Regions from separate parts of the Homo sapiens genome. Here regions 1 and 3 are each linked to region 2. The links come from fine-mapping of genetic effects on gene expression. A gene starts in region 2. Each other region holds a variant in brackets. All regions are shown on one strand. Distances are from middle to middle.

Region 1 (8,183 bases), 23 kb before region 2:
GGGTGAATGTGCTCTTCCAGGCTGAGGAAGCTATGCCTTCCCCACCACGTCTGGCCAGCTGTGGCCCAACCTCTGTTTCTGACCTGCACCCTTGACCACTCTTTCTGCTCTGGCCTTTGATGTTGGGCTCCACCGAGGCCAGGCCTCTGTTTTGCTTTCTTTTCACGTCTTGTCGATCATCTAAGACTCACAGCACTTGACTGTGGTGAGAATTAAAGGACATTATGGGTAAAGCACTTCTGGAGGGACTGGCAGTGTAAGACCTTGACAAGTGTCAGCTGCTCTCCCCAGGTTTCTCATTTTTAAAAATTTTGGTGCTAAAGTGCAGAAAGGCCCCATCCCAGGTCGGGTATTTGTGGCTCTTCTTTCTTGGTGCTTAGTGTCTTTAAAAGGGCATATGCTGTCCACAAAAACACATGGAAGAAGCCTGTAAGAAACCAGCTCAGAATGCTGCCGTCGGATTCCTGTCCCTCTTCTGATCTGCAGTTCCTGCCCTGCGATGAGATTTTCGGACCCTATCAGTTCTGCCCCTCTGCTTAAGAGAGTCTCTCCTGCACCCTGTTTTGATAACACATTTGCATGTACTTGTTTAGCTCAGTCTTTGGCCTTCACCCCTACACGAAGTCAGCTGCTCATCACCTTGCTTGAAAGGCTCAGAGAGCCACAGCAGTCTTCACCTGTTTCTATTTTTCTCTGATATAAATTGTAGACATTTTCTCATCTTCTGCAGAGAGCCCCATGATAATGTCAAACCCCCTCTTCCAACCAGTTTGCCTCTTCCAAGGCCATCTTGCATAGGAAATTTGGAGCCAATCTCTGAGAAGTAGAAACTGTTGGCCTCCATCTCAGTGGCAGGGGACTAACAAATATGCTTGCACTGACCCTGCATGCACACCTAGCTTCCCCAGACAGATGAGGCTGGACACTTTCTCTTCCTTCTGCACTTGCTGCTCTCATTGGGTTGCGCTTTCATTCTCTCCTTCTGCCTCTTTCTTGGTGATTTGATCATAAACATTGTGTGTTGGCTCACAAACCTGGGATTCCATCAGGCAGAATCCTGCCTGCAGGAGGGGGCAGGTGAGGATGCTGAGGGTGCGAGCATCTTCCTTTGTTGTCTCAGCATCTCTTTTTGAACCCAGGCATAAGAGAAGGCCCCTGTGTCATTGATAGGTAAGTTAAGACCAATAAAAGTATAAACATAACACATCTTAAAAACAGTGATATATCCTTTGTTTCTGAGAAAATACAGAGATGGCCTTAGAAAGGCTCTTGCACATAGGATGAAGCCTGAGCTGGTTTTAAAGCAAAGTGGTCTTTTTGATCATTTGAGAGAAGGGTGCTATCCTGGGCAGGGGAATGATATGAGCAAAGACAGGGATTCTAGAAGCTGAAACGTGTTGGGAAAGTGGAACAGGGAGCTGCAGGAAAAAGGAAAGTTGTTTGCTTACTGTGCATGAACCCAGAGTCTGCCACTCCCACATTCCCCGATCTTCTGGAGATTTCCTTTCTTTAAGATCTACATGCAGTGACCGAAGCGTGAAGCCACTTCCTAAGGGGAGCGTCCCCTTCTGTCCGAGGAGGCCCTTATTCTCATGGCCGGTGCTCGGGCCCCTGGATTCTTGCCCACCCACGTCATTGGTTCCCTGCCCACAGCCAGCATTTTACTCCTCGCTCCCCTCATTCTTTAAACTCCACCAACGCAGGCTTTGGAGAAACAGACTTTGCTGACATTTGGGAGCCATACAGTGGCCCCATCAGAGAACAGGCAACAACTTATGAATGACCACTAGAAATCCAGTCCAATCCACCACAGGCCATCCTGCCTGAGCTGCTCTCTCCTGAGCCTGCCTGACCCCATCACATCCTGGCCGACTCTCTCTCTCAAAACCTCTCTTCTCTCACTCTGTGTTTTCTCCTTTGTCTAATATCTCCACCAAGAGCAGGCAACAGTTTCTGTTGTTTACGATCAGAAGAGTTCATTTTTTTTTTCTAAACGTTTCTCATTTTGAACCAGTGGACCTTGACATTCACAGCCACACAGGCCCACTGAGGTCTTTTTCTTAAATAAAACAGCAACTTTTTCCTAAAGAGGCATTTGTCTTTCTTCTTAGACCACTGTTCTCCATCCTGGATGTGCATTACTGTCACCCGGGAACTTTTAGTGGCATCACCACCTGGGCTGCCATCTCTAGCGATGCTGATTTGCTTGGTTCCAGCTGGACTTGGGCACAGGCATATATTTTGTTTGTTCTGCTTTTGTTTTTATTTTTTTATTAATTTTTTTAAAAAGGGGATGGGCTTGTTGGAAAACATTCCCCAGGACATTCTAACACGCAGCCATAGCTCAGATCGGGAGTCGGCATCCTTTCTCCGTGAAAGGCCAGAGAGTGAAGATTTTCGACTCTGTGGGCCACATCAGGTCTCCGTCATAGATTATTCTTCTTCTTCGTCTTTTTTGATTGCTTGTTTTTAATTCCTTTACAAATATAAAAACCATTTTTAACTTGGGCCATAGCAAAGATAGGCTTTGGGCTTTTCTGACTGCTATTTTAGACCAACAAGTTCCATCTTTGGCCTTTCTTCATATAGTTCTATTTTCTTCTCCTTATGGAAAGTGGGTTTCAGGAGACTGGGCATTTTTAAAAATTTGTTTCCTTATCTTTAATGCAAAGGGATTGAATGTATGATCGCCTATGCTCCCTCCAGCGCTGAACTTCTCTCATTCTATTTTGTGGAGATGGCTGTGGTGAGCTCTTCTCAGGCCATGAGGCACGTGTGTCCTGGCCAGGAGTTCATCACAGCAGCCCACGAGGGGTGCATGGAAGATTCTAAGCTTTCAGGTGAAAAGATCTGGGTACCAATTCCAGCCTATCGTGTATAAGCCTCCCTCACTGCCCCATCTATGACTAGGATAATAACAGCGACTTGATAGGGCTGTTGTGAAGATTAAATAAGATGACGGAACCTGTGCAATAAAGTGGAAACAAGGCAGCTCCTTCGTCCAGGTGCCTCAGGTACTTGCTAACTGTGTGAGTTTGGGCAAATGCACTGCCCCAAGCCACGGTTTGCTCATGTGTAAAATGGGGATGATTATATCACCGCTTCCTTCAGAAGGCTGCGACAGTTAAATGGAGCAACCCATGTAAAGTGCGTTAGACAGAGAGGAGGCACTTAACAAACAGCTGCCATTAGACTTGCTGAGGTAAAAGAACCAGTTCAGTCACATGGCCCAGTGTAGGATCATGATCACGTGGTCAGAACATCAGCGAGAAGCTGAACAGTGCTTTTCTGTTGCTTCTCTAGGGTTTTTCCAACATATGCACAAAATCAGCAAAAATATATATAGAACCGAGGAGGCTCAGGGAAAATGACAGGCAGACATGCAGCTATTGCAAACCCGTGATGTGCCAGGCCCTGGGTTTCTTCCTGGAAATAGAGACATAAATAAGACACGGATGATGATCACCATCAAGGGTTCAAGGGCAGTGCATAGCTCTTTGTTCAAATCCACAGAAATATGACTCGAAGAAAGCATACGGTGGATAGAAAAGATCTTGCAAATCAGCCCTGTGTTCTTCTGTATCACAGTTCAGGAATGTCTCTTCTCCATGCAGGTTCATGGCACATCAACGAGTGTGACTGGGGAGTGCTGGCAAATCTACAGTTGAACTGCCTAATAATTTGTGGCATCAGAACCATGCAGGAGACAAACAAAATGACTTAGACCTTCTGTGTGATCTCACGAGGGTTGTGTTGTAGGGCTCCTGTAATAAGGTGAGTTATTATATCTGCGTAGTGCCGGGCAACATGCCTGGGCCTGCATGAGCTCCTCCTCTGTTCTTGGTCTCTCATTTGACATGAAGAATGAGAAGCAGACCGTTCCTGCATGCACTCACGTCTTCTGAGATCTATGGATCTCTGCTTTAGCTCTTCCCAGTTTACTATTTGATGAAGGAGAAAAGGAGAAAGGCACTAATAGGCACTAATCCTTTAACTTTTGACCAGTCTGTTTAACGACTAAAACTGCTCCTTGGAGGTTGACTTCATCCTCAGCATTTTACCTTTTTACTAATTTAGAAAACTAAAGTATAGAAGCTTTAATTTTTCCGGAGCCTCTGATCAGATAGTGGGAGAAACAACTTTTAAACTCTGGACTGTCTGCACCAAAAATCAAAGCCCTTTCACAATCCTACACAACTCTCCTACTTACCTCACAAGTAATTGAGCTTTAACAATA[A/G]AGAATATTTATAGAGTCCTTGCCTTGTGTGCTTACTGTATATACTGGAGTTTGTCATGCTCTCAGGAGGGAGGGTTTATAAGTGACCACACCAGTGCTACTTCACAGGCTAGGGAATTGCGTCACAGAGCAGAGTTTAGAAGCTTGCTTAAGGTGATGCAATTAATAGGTGGGAGAGTTAGTGTTTGAAGTAGCCAACGGGCCTGTTGTTTTTAAGAGCTGTGCTATAGAATCTCTTTTTGCTTGATTTTTGTCTCTAATCTTCTTGGTCTGGTCACAAGTTGCATCTCTATCGACAAATTGAAGCAGTTATCTAGAGTTTTCTGCCCTGGATTTTTAATAATTCATGCAAAGACCTTAGTCTGTTACTGAGGATAACATACTTGCCATGTGGAAAATGAAATAGGAGTCCATTCTTTAAAAATATGTGCTCCAAAGTGCAGATCCTCAATCTTTTCTTCCTGCATTCATCTATGCAAGACTTGAGACTAGGGAGACCCTATTTAAAACACTTGTTTATAGCTCCGTATCTCTTGTATTGGTTGGCATTCCCTGGTTAAATAAAATTCCCAGATGGACTTTATTTTTTCTTTCACCATTCCTCAAGTCAGAGAGTGACAGCACAAATTGAATGTGAGGCGTGATTGGAAGGATCCTCATTTCGTGTAATTTAGAAACAGAGACAGTCTGAATGGCTCGCTGATTTAATTACAGGATGTAAAAGTGGGTGAGACATGGCACAGCACTGACGGCTGATGGAGGCCTCCACTGTATATCCTTGTTTTCATCTCCCACAATTATTCGGACAAATCTTATGGGGAAATTTTGATGTGGCAACAGTAAACAGATGCTTTTCTTTAACTGCCAGGGTAAATTACCAGGTAATTTTGCTGGAAACGTGTGTCAATACAACACGGTCTCTCTTCCTGTCTGTGTTTCCGTCTTTCCTCCTTCCTCCTCCCTGTAGCCTTTCAAGACTGTCTCTGTTAGCAGAGAAATGGAGAGAAGCAGAAACCTTCTCTTTCATAAGGTATTTTCTGAGGATGCAATTTCTCCCTTTGCAGCCAAGTGGCATTTCTGAGCAGGATGTTAATGAGCCCAGTGCAGCCCTTGGTAGGCAGCAACTGACCAGCAGAGCTGGAAGTGTGCTCTTGGCTTTCAGAGATATCTCCAGTGATGCTCGTAGCCACCAGTTTTCCAGTTTGGTGGTGAAGCTGTGACTCAGAATTGAAGCCTATGGTAATTTTATCTCATCTTTCATTTTGGCCTCGGCCCTAAAAGTTCTGAAGAATTGATTTCAGACTGTGGAAAATCAAAGAACAAAATCTCATTTTATTCTGGAAACCATAGCAGGACCATCCACACCACTGCCCTGGCTCCTGACCTCATGCAACACTCCTGGCCTACATGCTTGGCCTGGCACTGCCGGCTGGTCCTTCTCACCACACCATGCTGTGTTGGTGACCTCAGCTGAGGCATTCCCTTAGCAGTGACTCAATGTGTTTCTTCAGTTTGTGCATTTATCCAGCAAGGAGGACATAGCTCTGTGGATAACCTATGGATCAATGACTCCATGGACAATGGTGGTTATGGACTAAAGTGTCACCAATGCCACCAAATGAGAAGCACTGGGATGATGTAGCAGAAGGAGCTTCCAGGGCAGCTGTGACAAATCGCAGAGGCAGTTGTCCTCATCTCACCCTGCACTTTATTTGCAGAATCTCCAGGATAGCTGACTGGCTCACTTTGCTTCCAGTAATTGCCTTCCTTCAGCCATCAACTTAAACTTGATCATCTGACGGCTCCCTCTCCATGGGCAGCGGGTCTCCCTAGGCTGCCACCTGTGGGCCAGTGTGGGTCAAGTCCTCTCTGACTGTATCTCTTTGCTCCTGCCAAGCTGTGCTGCAGACACACCCTCTGTCCCATGATTTTGGCATCCCGGTTCTCTCTGGTCCCTTTCTAGGGCCTCCCTTCCACCCTCAGGTGCTGTCATCATAGCTGGAGAAGGCATCTGGAGCACTCTTCAGGATGCACACTCTCTTGTTTGGTGAACCCCAGTATCTTTCTCTTTCTTCAAGAAGTCGCCAGAGTCTTCCATCCTCCTGGAAGCTTGCCTTAAGCTCTCCACCCACTTTTTTTCTTCTTCAGTTTTTTTTTTCTCTTCGCTCTCTCTTTCTTTCTTTCCTTCCTTTCTTTCTTTCCTTCCTTCACCTCCCCTCTCTTTCTCTTCCCTTCCCTTCGCTTATCTCCCTTTCTTTCTTTTTTCTTTCTTTCTTTCTTGCTTGCTTTCTTGCTTTTTTTTTTTTTCTTCCTCAGAGCCTCACTGTGTTGCCCAGGGTGGAGTGCAGTGGCACAATCTCAGCTCACTGCAACATCCGCCTCCCAGGTTCAAGTGATTCTCCTGCCTCAGCCTCCTGAGTAGCCAGGACTACATGTGCCCGCCACCACAACCAGCTAACTTTTGTATTTTTAGTAGAGACGGGGTTTCACCATGTTGGCCAGGATGGTTTCTTTCTTTCTTTTTTGACAGGGTCTCTTTCTTTTTTGACAGGATCTCTCTCTGTCACCCAGGCTGGAGTGCAGTGGTGTGACCTCAAGTCACTGCAGCCTCTGCCTCCCAGGCTCAAGTGATTCTCGTGCCTCAGCCTCCCAAGTAGCTGGGACTATAGGAACGCACCACCACACCTGGCTAATTTCTATATTTTTTTGTAGAAATGGAGGTCTCATCATGTTTCCCCGGCTGGTCTTAAACTTCTAGACTCAAGCATTCCTCCTGCTTCAGCATCCCAAAGTGCTGGGATTACAGGTATGAGCCACCCTGCCCGGCTTCTCAACCCACTTAACAGTAGCAACTGCCACCATTGCCATTTGCTGTCCTCATAATAATACTGTGGCATAGGTATTATTATTCCCATTTTGTGGGTAAGAAAATAGAGGTTCAAAAAGACTATGATTTGCCTAAATTAATAATTCGGTAATAATTGAAAATAACAAGCTTTAAGTGCTTATGTGCCATATAGTGGGTTAAGTTTTTCATATAGATCGTCTCATTTAATTCTTTAAAAACCCCATGTCAAACCCCATTTGACAGATGAAGAAGTGAGTCTAAGAGAGATATAATTAATGACAGAGCGGGATTTGAACCTTATTGACTCTATTTTAACTGCCAGCCTTGCTCCATATTTCATTTTCTGAAATATTATCCCAAATAGTTCAGTAACTGGCAGTTATTATTATTGTCACTTTTAAAAAAGTGTTAAAATTTTGGGGAAAAACTCCACTTTATTCCCAGTCTGGCCCCTAAGGCTTGTTCTTTTATTTTTAATTGGCAAACAATAACCCCTCTGCTTTCTTGAAAGGAAACTAGATATTGTAGGAGGCAGCATCAGTTTGCCTGCCTTTCCCAGAGATAAGACCACTGAAATGCATACTTTGTGCAGGTGAATACAGATTAAAAGCTGACTAGATGATAGTAAAAATGGAAATAAATAAAATGACAATTTGTCTCATTTCATATTTGTCTAATTACTCCAGTTGAGATATAAATGTGTCACAAAAATATAGCTTTTACTCACTCATATTTTGCATCTTAATTTCCCAGTTCAGCTTTTTCTGCCCCTAAGTATGTAACTCTTATATACTCCAGTGCTTTAGTAATAGCCTTATCCAAGCTATTGACATGAAAATAAGGAGTAATGTATACTCAATTGTACATAATAGGGTTGTAATTCCGTGGAGAGATGCCTGAGTGCTTTCCTAATGCCATGAGAAATTCAACGTGGAATTACAGGCTTGAGTTAATGTGCAAGAGTATCGGGTTGGTTCGTGTGCAGCTAGATGAGCTGACTTTTCTGCAGGATGCTACTACCAATGCAGCCCCTCTAGAGAGCAATGCTGAAGGGGAAGTAGAGGCTACAGCGAGGCCATCCACTCTTCATGATGCATT
Region 2 (8,183 bases):
CAATCATTGACTCACACTCTTCCCATGCATGGTTTCCTTTAGGCTCCAGCACATTTTTTTTTACAACAAGGTGGTACAATGATAAAAACACCACTCTGCTGTTAGACCACGGATTTCAGTCCTTTGTACATCCTAAGAGTTCTGATAATCCAGGAGGCTGGGGGCCATGTTTTCCACTCAAATTGCCCTGGTGCTGAAATGCACCACGTATAGCGGACACTCAATTAGTGTTTGTGGGCACCAATGAGTGACTATAACTGAGTGATTTAATTCTCTGGAAGAGCTATTTTAGGTTATATCTTATGACATTTTTTCATAGTTGTTAATTTTTGGCCAATAAAACAGCAATTTTACACGATTTAACCTAGTAATTTACAGGACTCACGGAATAACTTTTTGAAATAACACACTATGTGAGATTTTTAAGAGGCATCACTAAGTAATTAGCTGAAAACTTGCAGGAACTACAACAAAAATACTGCAAACTTTTCCCCAGCCCAAACTTTCATTTCATGGATGAAAACAAAACAAAATAACAGCCCTCTACCTAAATCAAGGGATTGCTCCTGTTGATTTGGAGAGATAAGGCCAGATACGGAGAGATGAAGTCAGATCGTGGATCCAAGTATTTTGCCTTAAGATTCAGGTCCTTTCTGCCTTAACATTCAGGTTTTTCTAATTTGAAAACAAGCCAATTCACTAATAAGGGTTTCTAAAGCATCCACAATATGAGGAAAGAGCTATGGGGAGAAGAATACAGGAAAATACAGAGATCCATCTTGACAACGTGATCAATCAGAAAACCTAGAAGTGAGAATCATCAGCTTTCATGGAGCGTTTGGAGAAGAGGCTTGTTGGCGCAGGAGGGCGGGGTCTGCGTTGCGCTTACAGGTCTGTAAAGAGAGAAAGGGGACATTTAGGCGGAAAGGTACAGTGGAAATGGCATTAGGAATAGAGGCAGGGGTTCAAAAGGAAGCTGGGTGGTAACAATACTCCCATTTCTTTCGAGTTCATCAATTAGAATCACTTTCTCTGCAAATTTGACTTCACAGGTGATCCGCTTCACAGATGAGGAGGCAGGAATGCCCACAGGGGATTCACCCATCGTCATCAGCCACACGCGGGAGATGTAGGGCCAGATTTCTCCCTCCATCTGTGTGATCCCCAATCCTGTGACACTCCTGCTTCCTTTTCCCGTAGTGGGGGAACTCCCTCCAAATGGAATTTCAGTTGCTTAGATCTTTGAATTGGATAGTACTACCTATGCTCACACTAATTAAACAATTAAGTCGATGCATTTAATTTTATTTTCCCCTGGAAGATGTAATCACCAGTATCGTTATTGAGGAGGGAGGAGGGGAGAAGAAAACTCCAAACAGCAGAAAACATTCCTGAGTTCTGTGCGCAGTGCCTTTGATGGGTGTGCTCAGATTTTTTTCATCGAGGTGGTTTTGAATCAGTTGCAGGCCTTCTTTCATGTGGGTAACTATTTAAAGATGTGATATTCGGGGCAAGCGTTTGTACCAACTCATTTTCTCTGTCTTCTCCCAGGCCGCTGAGGACCGCACAGGGGAGCGGGCGGCGGCATCGCGAGGACTGACCACTGGGTGGCACTGTTGCTCCATGGAGAGCTGCCAACGGCGTCCCCGGGGACCCGGCCACGTTGAGCACAAAAGGTGGGATTTCTAAGGTGTGCTCGGTGATGAGTTTCTTAATGAATTTACCTCTTCTATGGAATCTCCCTCTGCAGCGTCTCCTGCCGCCCGGGGCCGGTTTCTGACTGTGGACTCTGGGTTGAGCCCATGGGGTCAGTGCGCGTGGAGCTTGCACTGCCCAGACCCACAGCCCCAGGAGCAGCCACCTCCCGTGTCACCCGGGCGGCGTCCTGATGACATCACTTAGAAGATTAAAAATAAATTGAAGCACATGTCACCTTAAAGGGGGCACAAAAAGGACATCTGCATGATTTGATGCATCCATGAGAAAGGGCTGCTGGCTTTTGATTTAAACTGTTGGGAAAGAGGATTTTAAAGCTTGTAAGCTGCTAGTATTTCCAAAAGAATGACTATTTTTTATTTTTTATTATTTAAATTAAAAAAGCACTTCCCTGTTCCCCTGTCCCTACACTCTAATTCTTCTTGGCTTTGATTTGGGCGATATTGTAGGCAGCTTTCTGCTCCACGGTGAAGGTCTGCCCGAGGAAGGACGGGGACAATCTTGGGGAAGATGGGGGAGGCGGGGACCGATTTTCCAGCCCAGAGCTGGGGTCTGCAGAACCAGGAGCCCGGGCCAGGCTGGCCTATCAGCCATGACCATCTGTGCACCTTAGCCACCTACTCACAGCACAGCCTCCATCTGCAGATCCACCTAGGACTCATCCATTCCTGACTGGTCTTTTGTTTCAAAACCCGGCAGCCCCGGCCCCTCCCAAGCCTGAAGTCACCACACACGCCCATCCTCCCATCAGTCACTTCCTGGCTAATGGGGACTGAGGCCCAATCATTCTCGTTTTTCATGCCTTGTCAGAGGCCTGAACACAGAGACAGAGGAAGGGAGAGAGAGAGAGAGGGCAGCTCTGGAGGAGGCGCAGAGTATGGGCAGATGTCCTCATGAAAAATTTACAAGGAATAATCAGAGGCCCCTTCTCTCCCCTCTGGCCAAAGTCCCCCTAGGCTTGTTGCCCGGGCCGCTGTGAGAATATTGGAAAAGTCCCCCTCGTTTTGAAGGCAATCTGGTTCTGGGGGGTTAATGCCCAGCGTTGATGCACTTGGCTGTCCTCTTGAGACCGGGTTGCAAATGCAGTTCAGGCAAAATTGATGAAGTATCAGTTAATCTGAGGCTGACAGTTTAGAGAGGTCACAGCTGCGAGGGGCTGCCAGGGTCTCCCAGAGACAGGACTAAGAAGAGTTAAAGCCAGGGAGGGCCCGGTGAAAGGAAGCATTCATCTTCTTCGCCTGGGCATTTCTCAAACATTGCGCCTGCCAGGATCCCTGAGCCTCTCTCCAGGTGAGCAGTGTGAGTGGGGAGGCTTTCACTCTGGTGCGCACAGTCATGCCTCCTCCCAGACAAATCCAAACCCACATGCCTGGTGTTCCTGGCTCCTTGGGAAGGAAGAAGGAGGGAGTTGCTGCTCCTAATTGAAACAGGCAGTTAGGTCTCCTATGCAAATCCCCTTGCTGTAATTGGCACTGTGAGTGCCGCCTGCTCATTCCTCCGTTTCCCGCTAGGGGAAGGTCATCTTGGTAAGAGATGTGTCCACACGGGGTGGGCTCTGAGCTGCTCAGAAGGAACTCTGCAGAAGTGGGGAACCATTGACTCACACCCTTCCCATAGGTGGTTTCCTTCAGGCTCCAGCAATTTTTTACAACAAGGTGGTACAATGAGAAAAATACCGCTCTGCTGTTAGACCACATATTTCAATCCTTGTACTTCCTAAGAGTTCTGATAGTCCAAGAGGCTGGGGGCTATGGCCATGTTTCTCACTCGAATTGCCCTGGTACTGAAATGCATCACGTGTAGGGGAGACTCAGTGTTTGTGAGCACACACTGAGTGACTATAACTGAGTGATTTCAGAGAGACAGAAGAAGGCATGCAAATGCACTTGTCTTGAGTTGTTTTCTAGGGGACATGCTCAGGGCTCTGGGACCTACCTAGTCATCTCGCTGCCTGGAGAGGCGGCTGCTTGGCCATGTTATCTCCATGCCTTCTAAATTAGGATGCGGCTTTAGGTTCACATTCATAAATAATTGGGTTTTATGGGATAGGAAGCAGCAAGGGCTTTGCGTTGATCGGCCCTGGGTTGGGTCCTGGCCTCCCTAAGCTTTGAGAATGATTTTATCATCACCATTGCCTGCTTATGGGAAAATAGGGCGGCAGTTAGTCGTGGAGTCCCTGTGACAAAGTGGCAGGTGGATGGCTGCGCCGGGGGTCTAACCTGCGCTGTCACACTCCGTTCCCTCTTCCTTTCAGTGACAAGAATGCAAGTAATAGTGCTGAGAATCGTGTGCTCAGCTGTGCTGGGCTGAGCATTTTATGTGCATGAACTCATCCCTCCCTGCGAACTTGTGAGAAAGGTATTATTATTATCATTATTAATATTATTATTACCGTATTCTCTCTGCTTACAGACAGAGAGATTGAGGTGTGGCAAGTAGGTAGTAAAATCCACCTTCTTCTTCTGTGAGGTTCCTCCTGTTCCCAGGGGTGTGGGGACGGTGAGTGGTGGATGGGTGAGGTCTTACAATGCAAAACTGCTGATTTCTACATCCGAAAAAAATCATGAATATGAACGATTATAGCCAGATTGAAACTATCATTATTTTCGGTAAGAAAAAGTGCGTCTATTCACAGAAAGTCAGGTACTTTTCCCCAAAATCACATGGGAAAAGTGTGCAAATACAGAACAGCCCTTCCAGGAAGGAACTATTTTCTCCGAAACAGGAAATTGTTGTACATTCAGACACACCATAAATACACGTCTAGTTTGTACATGGCAATTCCAGGGTCTGAGGCTCTTCCTTCCTGGCCCTAGAATGGCGTCTCTTGCGCTGTGGGCTTCCTGTTGAGGCAGGGGCTGAGGAGGTGGGAAGCAGAGGCTGAGATTTTCCTTCACCACGGTCACAGAAGATGCGCTGTTCCAGGGGCCTGGGTGGGAGCAGCCCAGGAGCCTGCGTCTCCCCTCCTCGGCCCTGGGAGGCGGCTGGACTGTGCCACACGGGACGGGTGCTGAGGGACCGCTGGGTGCCCACCTCCCTGACCCCTCCTGCAGGGGTGCCTGCCAAGCAGCCTGGGCACTGCCGTCTGGAAGATGCGCCGTGCCGGTTCTACACGGTGTTCCCTTGCTCCAGGCAGAAAGGTCAGTCCAGGCTTCTCACTCCATCGTGGCCAGAAGCCAAGTCTCATGGCATGAGATTCAACCAAAGAGAATCTCCTGGAGCTTCTTTACCTCATCAGACTTATATCCCACACAACACACACACACCCCCATCCATAAATGTGTGTATGTATATACCACACACGTACACACACATATGCCACACACATGCACACCACACACACAGAATGAATACACATACACCACACACATAAACACACACGTGTGTATGTATATATCACACACTTAAACACACGCATGCCACACACGTGCACACCACACACACAAAATGAATACACAGACACCACACACACAAACACAGAGATATCACACACATACATACACACACCATGCAACACACAAACATGCATACACATATTCCACACACAGAAACACACAGACACCACACATATACACACAGACATGCATACACACAACACACATATAAACACACAAATGCCACACACCAACACATGCCACACACAAACATGCACACACATACACCACACACATAAACACACAATACCACACACATACACAGACACTAACACACACTACACAAACATGCACACACATACACTACACACAAAAATACACAGATACCACACACATACACAGACACTAACACACACTACACAAACATGCATACACATACACCACAGATGTAAACACACAGATACATACATACACACACACCAACACCCACACTACACACATAAACACATGCATCATATGTAACACACATTACACAGACTTATATCCCACACAACACACACATACCCACATTCAACACACACACTTGCTCACACCCCTTCCCACACAATCCAACACACACACCCCCACATTCAACACACACGCATGCTCACACCCCTTCCCACACAACCCAACACACACACACCCACATTCAACACACACACTTGCTCACACCCTTTCCCACACAACCCAACACACACACACCCACATTCAACACACACATATGCTCACACCCCTTCCCACACAACCCAACACACACACACACACGCCTCCACGTACATCTTTTTATGGTAGTTATTTTTTTGTAAGTAAAATATTTGTATAATATCAGCTTATTGTTTGCCATAGCATAACTTATTTCAAACTTGTCCAACCTGCAGCCCATGTGGCCTGGGGTGGCTTTGAATGCAGCCCAACCCAAATTTGTAAACCTTTTAAAAACATTGAGATTTCTCAGCTATGATTTTCTTTAGCTCATCAGCTATTGCTAGTGTGGTGTATTTTATGTGTGGCCCAAGACAATAATTCTTCTTCCAATGTGGCCCAGGGAAGCCAAAAGACTGGACGCCCCTGAATTATGTGGTTCTCATCCTAGGTGATTTTGCCCCTGGAGGTAGGTGGAAAGTCTGGAAACATTTTTGGCGATCGCAGCTGGAGGGGGCTCTTGGCATCTACGGGTGGAGCCAGGGTTTAGGGTGTGTGCAGCACCAAAGGCTCGATGCCTCCCCAACACCAAAGAACCCTCTGAGCCCGTAGTGCGGAGACCAGAAACCCGATTTCAATTTCCTAGTAAAAGAAAACGGAAATGAAAACGACAAAACGGTCCTGTGTCTTCTCTCTTCTCGGTGCAGCTATCTGGATGGGGCGACTTGGAATTCCGAGTCTAGGCCTTGCACTGATTTTCCCCCCTGACATCTGGGAAGCCATTTCACTGTTTAAAACCAAAGATGCTGAGTGGCAGCTGCCACCAATTGGAAGGGGACAGGAGAAAGGGATTTTTATGAAGAGCCTGTGTGCCTTGGATGCTGCAGGTGGAGACCTCTGCAGTTTGTCCAGCAACTGCCTGCCAGAGATGGGCCAGAGAAGGGCCAAGCAGCTCCCTCCTATCGGAGGTCCACAGGTGGACCCCCACCCCCAGTCTCCATCCCCGGTCCACGCCCCAGTCCCTGCTGGTGGGGAAGCTGGGGAGCAGGCCATGCGTGTAATTCCAGAAGCTATTGCATGGCAAAGGCTACGTGCCCTCAAAGCCCGGGCACCTCCCTGGCCCCACAACTGCTTCACACAATACTTGTGTTTCTGTACGTTCTATGTGAAGTTTCAGGAAAGAATCTGTAAGTGATGTCTAAAGCAAGTTTCTGAATATTTATGCTGTAATACACGGCCATGAGCATGCTGGCTACTCATTTCTAATCCTATGACAAATGCACAAGGGCAGGTACTGGGAGAGTGAACTGTTTCCCTGGCCAGGGACCCAAGCACCACTTGGGGCATCAGAAGGAAGCCCTCTGGTTTTGGCCAAGGAGAAGCTTGCACTGTTTTACTAGAAACGTCCTATGTGAATCCATCCTCTGTGATTCCACGACTTTGTATGACTTGCTTGGTGCTTCCAAGGACGTAGGAACTGAAGGGTGGGGCATGTTCTGTGCACTTTTGTCATGGGAAAGCTGGCTTTTGGGAAACCCCCTGGCCCCACAGTTGCTCCCAGAAGCCATACTGGGGGAAGGGCCTGGGGAATGTTCCCAGAGGGTCATGTTGCCTTGATTCATCCTGATGGGGATTTGGGGAAGGGCGAGTGACACCATCATGACTGGGTGCGCCCAGACTGCCTGTCTGCCCTGCTATTTAGAAGCAATATTAGCGAGGGCTATAGTTTTTTTTTCTTTCTTTTTTTTTTTTTTTTTTAATCAGTAAAAATGAGTTCCTAACTTTAGTTCAGAGTCTTAGTTAGGTTTCAGTTTCAGAGAACTCTTTCAAAAAAGGGAATATGTTAGAAGGCCCACAGTGGCCCTTAATAATTTTGAATTAGCGTTAGAATGAGACACCTGATGGCAGTGATTCCGAGTGGAGACCCTGGGCCAGCGTCCCCAGCACCGCCTGGGAACCTGTGAGAAGCACAGCTTCTGGGCCACACCGTAGAGCTGTCTTTACATTTTATACCTCTTCAAACACCGCATAGTCTCACTCATAAGTGGCAGTTGAACAATGAGAACACGTGGACACAGGGAGGGAATATCACACACTGGGGCCTGTTGGCGGGTGGCGGGGCTAGGGGAGGAATAGCATTAGGAGAAATAACTAATGTAGATGAGGGGTTGACGGGTGCAGCAAACCACCATGACACGTGTATACTCATGTAACAAACCTGCATGTTCTGCACATGTATCCCAGAACTTAAAGTATAATATAAAAAGAAAAAAAAATTTATAACTCTTCCAGCAGTTTCTATCCATAGCACATAGAGCTTGTGTTTTGGTTTGGTTTTGCTTAATTTTCACAAGCCTGCAGTTGAAAGTGAAATGAGATGAGGTTAGCGAAAAGAGGCAGGAACTCTGGAAC
Region 3 (8,183 bases), 900 kb after region 2:
TTTATATTTTCAACAGTGTCTTTTGAAAATCAGAGGACTTTATCTTTGAATAAGATAAATTTATATATTTTTAATTTGTATGGTTTTTTTTTTTGTTCTGTCTAAGAAGTCTTTGCCTACTTTAAAATTGCAGAATGTTTTCTGCTAGAATTTTTAGACTTTTAGTTTCTCCATTTAGGCCTAGGATCCAAGTAAGTCTTTAAATCAGTTAGTGTAAGTATTCCAACTTTCCCAACTCTTCAAGATATTTTGGATATTGTACATACTTTGCATTTCCATATGAATTCTAAAAACAGCTTACCAATTACTCTGAAAAGCCTGCTGAAATTTTTATTAGAAACATAATGAATCTATGAATCAATTTGGAGAAATGGATATCTTAGCATTACATATTTCATTTTATGAACATTGTCTGTCTTTTTACTTATTTAGACATTTTCTATCATTTCGTAGTAATGTTTTCTAGTCATTTTTACAGAGGTCTTGCACATCAGTCATAAAATTTATTTCTAAGTATTAGTGAGGCTCTTACAGATGATATTTTATAAAAGTATTTTTCCACTGTTTATGTTTTATATATTAATCATTATCTTACAGCCTTGCCAAATTCATTTATTCATCCTACTAGTTTTTTTTTAATATTCCTTAGAGTGTTCTACATAGATAATCATGCCCTTTGTGAAAAGCAACAGTTTTACCTCTTCCTTCCCAATTATTATCCCTTTATTTATTTTTCTTGCATTATCACTCTAGCTACGACCTCTTGCAATATTGAATAGAAGTGGTGAAAGTTGATACCCATGTTTTACTCCCAACCTCAGGAAGAAAGCATCCAGTCTTTTATCATTAAGTGTAATATTAGCTATAGGATTTATAAATACTTTTTTGTAGTTTGATGACGTTTTATTCTTCTTTGCTGAGAGTTTATTTTTTAAATGAATAAATAGACTCAGATTTTAATGCTGAATTTTAATAGATAATAAGGTTTGGCTGTATCCCCACCAACATCTCACCTTGAATTGTAGCTCCCATAATCCCCACGTGTTGTGGGAGGACTCAGTGAGAGGTAATTGAATCATGAGGTTGGGTCTTTCTCATGCTGTTCTCATGATTGTGATTAAATCTCATGAGATCTGATGGTTTTATAAAGATAATTTCTGCATGCGCTGTCTTTGCCTGCTGCCACATAAGACATGACTTTGCTTCTCCTTCACCTTCTGCCATGATTTTGAGGCCTCCCAAGCCATGTGGAACTGTGAGTCAATTAAACCTCTTTCCTTTATAAATTACCCAGTCTTGGGTATGTCTTTATTGGCAGGATGAGCGTGGACTAATACAATGCATATGGAGAACTTTTGCAATTAAAGATTAGAAATAATAATCTGTAATTTGTCCATTCCAGTGTGTGTGGCCAAGCTGTAGTTCACTTGTTCATTTACAGAATAATTCCCAATATCATCATGGCAACATTGATCTCTTCCTTTACCATTGTATTAGTCATCTAGGGCTGCTTTAATAAAATATCACAGAGTAGGTGCCTTAAGGAAAAAAAATCACTTCTCACAGTTCTAGGGGCTAGAAGTATAAGAAGAGTGTGACAGCAGGGTTGGATTCTGGTGAGGTCTCTCTCTTTGGCTTGCCGATGGCTGCCCTCCTGTTCTGTCCTCACATGACCTTTCCTCTGTGCATGACTGGTGTCTTTCTCTTCTTATAAGGATACCATGTATGGATTTTGAGGGAAAAAAATCCAATCTATATCAACCACCCCCAAAATATCTTGATGCAACTCAGAGAGTATGTTCATCCACACACACACTCAATTGTATGACTCCAATGAGAAAACCAAAGGAAAAGTAGTCTGTCTATAAACATTCGTCTTATCCACGTGTGATAAGATTGTAATAATGGATATACCTCTATTTCTTTGAAACTAAGGTGTTGCTGACTCTAAGTTATGTTTCAGTTTCAGAAATAAGAAGATGGGGTAGGGAGAGTGTATTTGGGAATCAATGAAAAACAGCATTCTTACGCAAGTGCCTTTCAGATTTGGGATATTAATAGATCCATAAATTCAAGACAAAACAAAAATTGATCATCACCCCACATTCAGGATATTTAAGCATTAAAACATAGGAAAGATCACTCTAAAAATAAATAGTAGTTCTTCCAACTAAGGAACACACATATGTATCTAAATTTATTTACATTTACAGAACAGTGCCAGCTGAGAGAATAGAATTTGGGAATCCCTTCTACAGAAAATGAAGAACTGAGATTTAAAGATCAAAGACACTAGGAAGGAGAGGAAAATGTGCTCACTGCAGTAAAACAGACTTGATCAATCTTTTGACTGTTTTATCAACTAAGGAAGGTGCAATGACGATGTGTCAGCTTTGGATGAACATTAAATTAGCAGAATTACTTCCAACATTCTGTCCATTACATGATCATAGGCCATGATAACAAAGAAGCAAGACTTATAGCAGCCAAAAGTAGAAATTAAGGTTCTGCAGAGATGTATCTGAGGTGGAATTTTTAGCCACTTCCACGATTCCAAGTGGAGAGGAAATTCCAGGGAAAGCCAGAGGGCTGGACTAGAAACAGGTGCATTTGTGAAGAAAAGAAAAAAGACATCAATTATTGTGTGTGCAAAATGTATGTTTTGCAGCCTCAGGTCACCTGGGAGTTCTCATTTATGTGGGCACTGTAGTAATTGACACTTTACATTTTTTTCACACAGTAATTCCATTAATTAGATATCTCTATATAACTTTATGCATAGAGTGCTGATTTAATATCATAGATTTCAAGTACTGCAGGTAATGAAGATACAAACCAGGCAACACTATACCATTCAACTCATTACTTGGAGGAATTTATAAAAATATGCTTAGAAGGAAGTAATTCACCTATAAAAAATTTATAACATTTACTGGGTCAACAGATTCCTATCATAGCAAGTTGAATCTACATTCATTAACTTGGTTCATTTCTGAAAATAATTGTCTTAGCCTCTTGCAAGCTCAAGAGCACATGAGTTCTCACCATTCCAGAGCAACTGTGTCTTGGCAGAAGCACCTGCAGGAGGGGGCACTGTGCTTAAGGAGGACACAGCCGGGGGAGAGAGGTTGGAATTGGCCTTAAACCTGAAATTCTTTCTCCCAGGCATTGATCGCTATTTGCTCACTGTCACAGACTTAGAGCTGCATGTATTTTGCCTTTGATCCTGAGAAATCCTAACAAGCTGAATTAAAAGCAAGTGGTCCTAGGAAGCCTCCATCACTGGTGTCCTGAACACCTGAAAGCAAAAAACCAAATAGCATGATGGGTCTCCAATTCAACAGCCACAGCCTGGGGCAAAAATACAAAAGCCCCATCTGCAGTAGGAATGCGGAGGACGCCTTCTTCACCTTTGTTCATTCCACCCAGGTAGGGCATTTACCGGGGCAGGATGATAAGCCAGGCACTGCAGGTAAGTAAAGACAAAGGAACTCCTAATGTAGACTCTTGGAAGCATCTCTCTGTTACCTTGGAAGGTTACTTAACTTCTCTGTGCCTCAAGTCGCTCATGAGAAAAATAGACATTATTATAGTGATCCACCTGATATGTTTGTGTGAGTGAGATGCATTAACTACTTGGCATATAGTACTCACAAATACTAAACGTAAATAAAATATTTAACATAGACATCAGCTATCATTATCACTGTCATCTTCATCACGTAATCCTATCAAAGATGTAATTGCCGTATTGTTATTATTTCCACTTTTCCAATGAGGAAATTAGGCAGCTTATTCAGAATCACAGAGGTCGTTAGGTGGCTGAAGCCAGTTTTTGTGTTCTCAGGTTTTTTCTACTACAGCCGTCTGGGGAAGGGGGAATGGGGAATGTTAGAGACAGAAACTGAGAGTAGAAAAGGAACTTCACGTGCATGCCAGGTACTTTACTTGTGTTACTCTATTTGATTCTCACAATACGCACATGGTCAGGCAGTGGCTGGATTTTAAGGTTTTGGAACTTGAGAGTAAGCAAGGCTACTTAATTTTCTTGCCATGGTAACAAAATTATATCAAATGGCTGAGAAAGACTTGAGCTCAGATGTGTCTAAAAGTAAAGATTATGCTTTTCTTTGACAGAAACAGAGTGAAGTTGAGATGTGACTGGTTAAGGCAGAGTTGGAGTGAAGGGTCAGAGCTATCCTGGAAAAAACATGACTGGCTTTACACTAACTTCAGTCACGCTATGGGACCTTTGGAGAGCACCGGCTCACATTCTAGCCTTGAGTCCTAGAGCTGCAGATCTTTCCCGAGACTTGGCCTGACACTGAAGGTCTAGAACAGAAACGAGAAACTCTAGCTTTCCAGATCACTTGCCTTTCCTTGCAGGAAGTATGAAGCTCTCCCCAGCCAGATCCTCGACTATTTCAGCACAACCATGATAACGCTATTGCAGGTTGCATTTTTGTGAGTTTGTAAATGCAAGACTGAAAAAAAAAAAAAAAGAACATAAACTCTGAACCGAGTCATTGAAATTGAATGTGTGAGGGAATTCTTGCCTGTAAGATGAAGGCAAGCTGGTTGGCCTTCACAGAAATGGCCGTACCCAAAAGCTGATCCGAAAAGCAGCATAGGATGTGGCCACAGGG[T/G]GAACTATACTTGGATTCTCACTGGAGCAGCTGTTGAGGGGCCGTGCACAGGAATGTCAGAGTGTGGGGGCCGCAGTGGCAATATGTCATGCGGCTCACATTCTAGCTGATCTCACAACAACTCTGAAGTCTGGTGAAGTTGGTGAGAGCTCCCAACTTCGCAGGCCTGGTGGACTGGGTTGTCTTAAATATTGCGCTCCCTGCAAAGCATGTATTTCTGCAACACTCAGATGGAATGAAAGTGATTTGAGAGATGATAAAGCATTAGTGTCCAAGTGAACTCCAGAGCATTAGTGTCCAAGTGAACCCTCCCTATGGCAAAGCTGAGGAAATAGCCCCGAGAGACAGAGGATAACAGGCTTGGGGTCACCAGTAGAGAAGCAAAGACGATCTTTCAGCTCAGATCCCAAATCCAGGCAGCTGTGTGGTTTTGGTTTGTTTCACAGTGCCACAGAAAATCTGAAACCCTCTGTATAACTGAGTGGATAGATGGGCAAGCAAACAGGACATCCAATTGTTCTGCAGATAAGGTGCAGGTGCCTCAGGACAGGTGGGCGTCAGTGAGGAAGAAGGAGGCTCTATCACAAATTGAGTTTAGAAGCTCTGGGCTTCATTTTTCCTAATCTGGACAAGCCACTCTCCTTCTCCGGGCCTCACTTCTTAAATCTTTAAAACGCAAGAAAGCAAAGAAATTTACAGCTCTGTGATTCCTAGTGTCCTATTTTAAAAACTTCTCTACCTCTCTAAAAAGATGAAAGGAAATATGGACAGAGTAAGGGACAGGAGAAGAGAGAATGTGTGAAGAAGAAAGAGAGATTCTGGCTTCAACAGCTACCAGTGTCGTGTTTCCCTTTTCTCTGAAAGCCAAGAGACCTTCAAATGCTTGCTTATTCCGGGGTAAGACATCCCCAGAGGCAACCACGCCTGGGGATTTTCCAGGGATCAGGAGCAATTAAAAGACACATAGCTTTCCATTTCCAGCAGGCCGCTTCCAGGGCAATCCCCGGAAGGCCTGGGAGGACACCGATACAAGAATGCAGTTGCACCCTTCCTCGAAGGAAGTGTCAGGGCCTGAGACCACAGCTGTGTCCCCACCCTCTTTTAGTCCTCTGCATAGTCTCATGGCCCTGGGACCTGTTGGGCATTCCTGGGTGTGGGCACAGATGCCTCTGACCACCACCCGGCAAGAAGTCTCTTGGGAAGAGTGTCCTACCCTATTTATAGCTGTTCCTCAGTTACTTTATTTTACCGTAGGCCACACAAAAAGCTTTGATCATAAGACGCTTCCGGGTAGCCTACTATTCCATGAGCCTGTAGACCAGACAGGGTAGAAAGCTCCCTGTGCCACTGTGTCCGGCTGATACTGCAGTCACAGATGTCTCCACCTCCTTTCTCACCACTTGGGCAGAAGATAAGTCAACACGAGGTCCCTGGGACTCCTTGACTGGCTGGCCCCTGCCCTATGTCCACTTATGTCCACACAGGCCATGATACTGTAAAGTCAGCGGTCCTTTCTGTAGTCCTGGGGTCTTCATGAGCCTTGGCACTTCCTCGTCTCTGCTGCCACATGCATCCTGCTCAGAGCAGCCCACACACAGGAAGAAAGCACAGGGCCAGGCCACATGGCGTCTCTCACAAGTGGGCAAACTTGACTTTTTATTGGTTAGAGTTGGTTGGCACCAGTTCTGACTTCAGTGAATATCTGGAAAGACTTAGATTACAGCTCAGCCTTGCCTTTCAGAAGGAGGTGGAGTGGGGTTTCAAAGACAGTCCTACAGGGCTCCATGCCTCCCCTGTTTTCTGCAGAGCACAACACCTCTGCAGCTCACTAGACCCCTCCATAGGGTTGCAGAAAGACCTAGATTACAGTTCTGAGGGTGAAATCAGATAACCAGCCTCAAGAACTAGGGCAAAACACAAGAATTTTGGGTGAGTTTCTGCATTTGTAAGTTGAAAGGAATTCTAACTAGATGATCCCAAGGACTCTCTGAGGACAGAAATCCCAGGATTCAATAAACTCTACTGTGCTGAGAATTCAGTAAGTGTAAAACACAGTTCTTATAAAAGATAGAGGCAAGAAGGTAGTTTTCATAAAAAAGAGGAGGTAATGATGATTTCTGTTTTCTAGAATCCAAACTGACCTTATTTGGAGCCAATGGTAACTTAAGTTGTAAGACTTTTAACAGATGCAAACAATTTGTCCTTGAATCTGGGGTTGCTCTGTATGGTGACAACTCTGGTGCTTTTCTATGTGAGGGATTAAAAAAACCTGAGTAACAGAGTGTCCAAAGTCGGGTGTTTGTATCTAATAGAAAGCTCTTGGCATTGTGTTCTGAGTCAGATCTCAAAGGCAATAGCAGGCCTGGCAGTAGGCACCATGGAAGCAGGCACTGGCCTTGTGAACTTCACCTTGTAGGATTACCCTAGCCTGTTTCTGTGGTCAGCTGTTCTAGAGTCATCACAACTGGTCTAGAGGTGTCAAAGATGCAGAATGAAGGGAAAGGAAGTCTTCATGAAGCCTAACGTTGAGGAGTGAGATGATAAGCAGACTATTTGGGAAAACTGGTATTATGCCAGTATCAGTAAAAAGGTTGCAATTGGTCTAGAAAGACCTAGAAACAAGATGGTTTTCACAGTGCACAACGAAATCTGATTCTAGCTCTATTACCTCAACCAGCTGTCTGACATTGGGGATGCTAGTCCCACTGTCTGGACCTCTGCAGCTTGGTCTGTATGATGCGGAATGGGGCTAACATGGCCTCAGCAGTTGCTTCAGCTTTGCCGTCCTGCCCTTCTCTGGCACAGACTCCCAGGGGCAGCCAGGGTTCTCACAGCCACCAGACACTGCACCCTCCTCGCTGCCTCCCACGCAGCAGATGGGGCTGCTAGATGAGAGCATGAGCAGGGCAGCAGCCGGAAGCATACACGCCCATTGGATTTCAGCTATTTCCATGCCCTGGTTCTGCCCACACAGGCCGCCTTGGCAGAAGTGTCGAGTCTGCAGCTGCTGCCCAGAGCACTTGTGGAGCCTGGTCAGCAGCCCCACCCTGCTGGAGTCCAGAGACGGACACCTAGGCAGCCCACACTGTTGTCTAGAACAGGGGCAAAGAGTCTCACCACAAAGATGGCCCGGCAGCCCAGCCCATCACATATAATGAAAAGATCACCCCTGGGAGTGTCCAGTAAACATTTAATGAAGGCAATCCCCTCTCGGCATGAGGATTTTTGGCTTTCTGAAATTGGACATTGGTGATGCTTTGAATCGGAATGCAGGGAAATGAAGACAGTAACTAAGCCTTCTTCATCCTTCTCCACCGTCCAGCAAAGACAACAGTTTGTCCTCAGAGTATATGGCAGGAGGGAGATGAGCCAACATCGAGAGCCCCACTTAATGACAAGTAAATCTTGTTCTGTACTGCCATGCTACTTTCTTTAATACTGATGTGGACCACCTATAGAGTGTTCTATAAAGCAGTAACTGCTTGCAGAACGTTGTTGACGCTCATGCACTTATGGCTCATAACAACCCTAGGAAGT

The links.
Region 1: its variant is fine-mapped to the expression of LINC00487 in testis (GTEx, PIP 0.94).
Region 3: its variant is fine-mapped to the expression of LINC00487 in minor salivary gland (GTEx, PIP 0.99).

The regions. Positions count from the first base shown.
Region 1 is chr2:6,789,735-6,797,917 of GRCh38, reverse strand. LOC105373404 (a long non-coding RNA gene) reads left to right here and starts at 984. Exons shown (of 4, transcript XR_922745.3): 1 at 984-1,170; 2 at 3,615-3,774; 3 at 6,950-7,043. The variant A/G (reference allele first, on the strand shown) is at 4,238.
Region 2 is chr2:6,766,752-6,774,934 of GRCh38, reverse strand. LINC00487 (long intergenic non-protein coding RNA 487) reads left to right here and starts at 4,624. Exons shown (of 6, transcript NR_038369.1): 1 at 4,624-4,856. It overlaps LOC105373404 (a long non-coding RNA gene), which reads left to right. Exons shown (of 4, transcript XR_922745.3): 4 at 1,552-2,112. RefSeq lists an enhancer at 569-1,768.
Region 3 is chr2:5,866,621-5,874,803 of GRCh38, reverse strand. No RefSeq gene overlaps it. Among named protein-coding and RNA genes, the nearest start is that of LINC01810, 58 kb to the right of the region's middle. The variant T/G (reference allele first, on the strand shown) is at 4,647.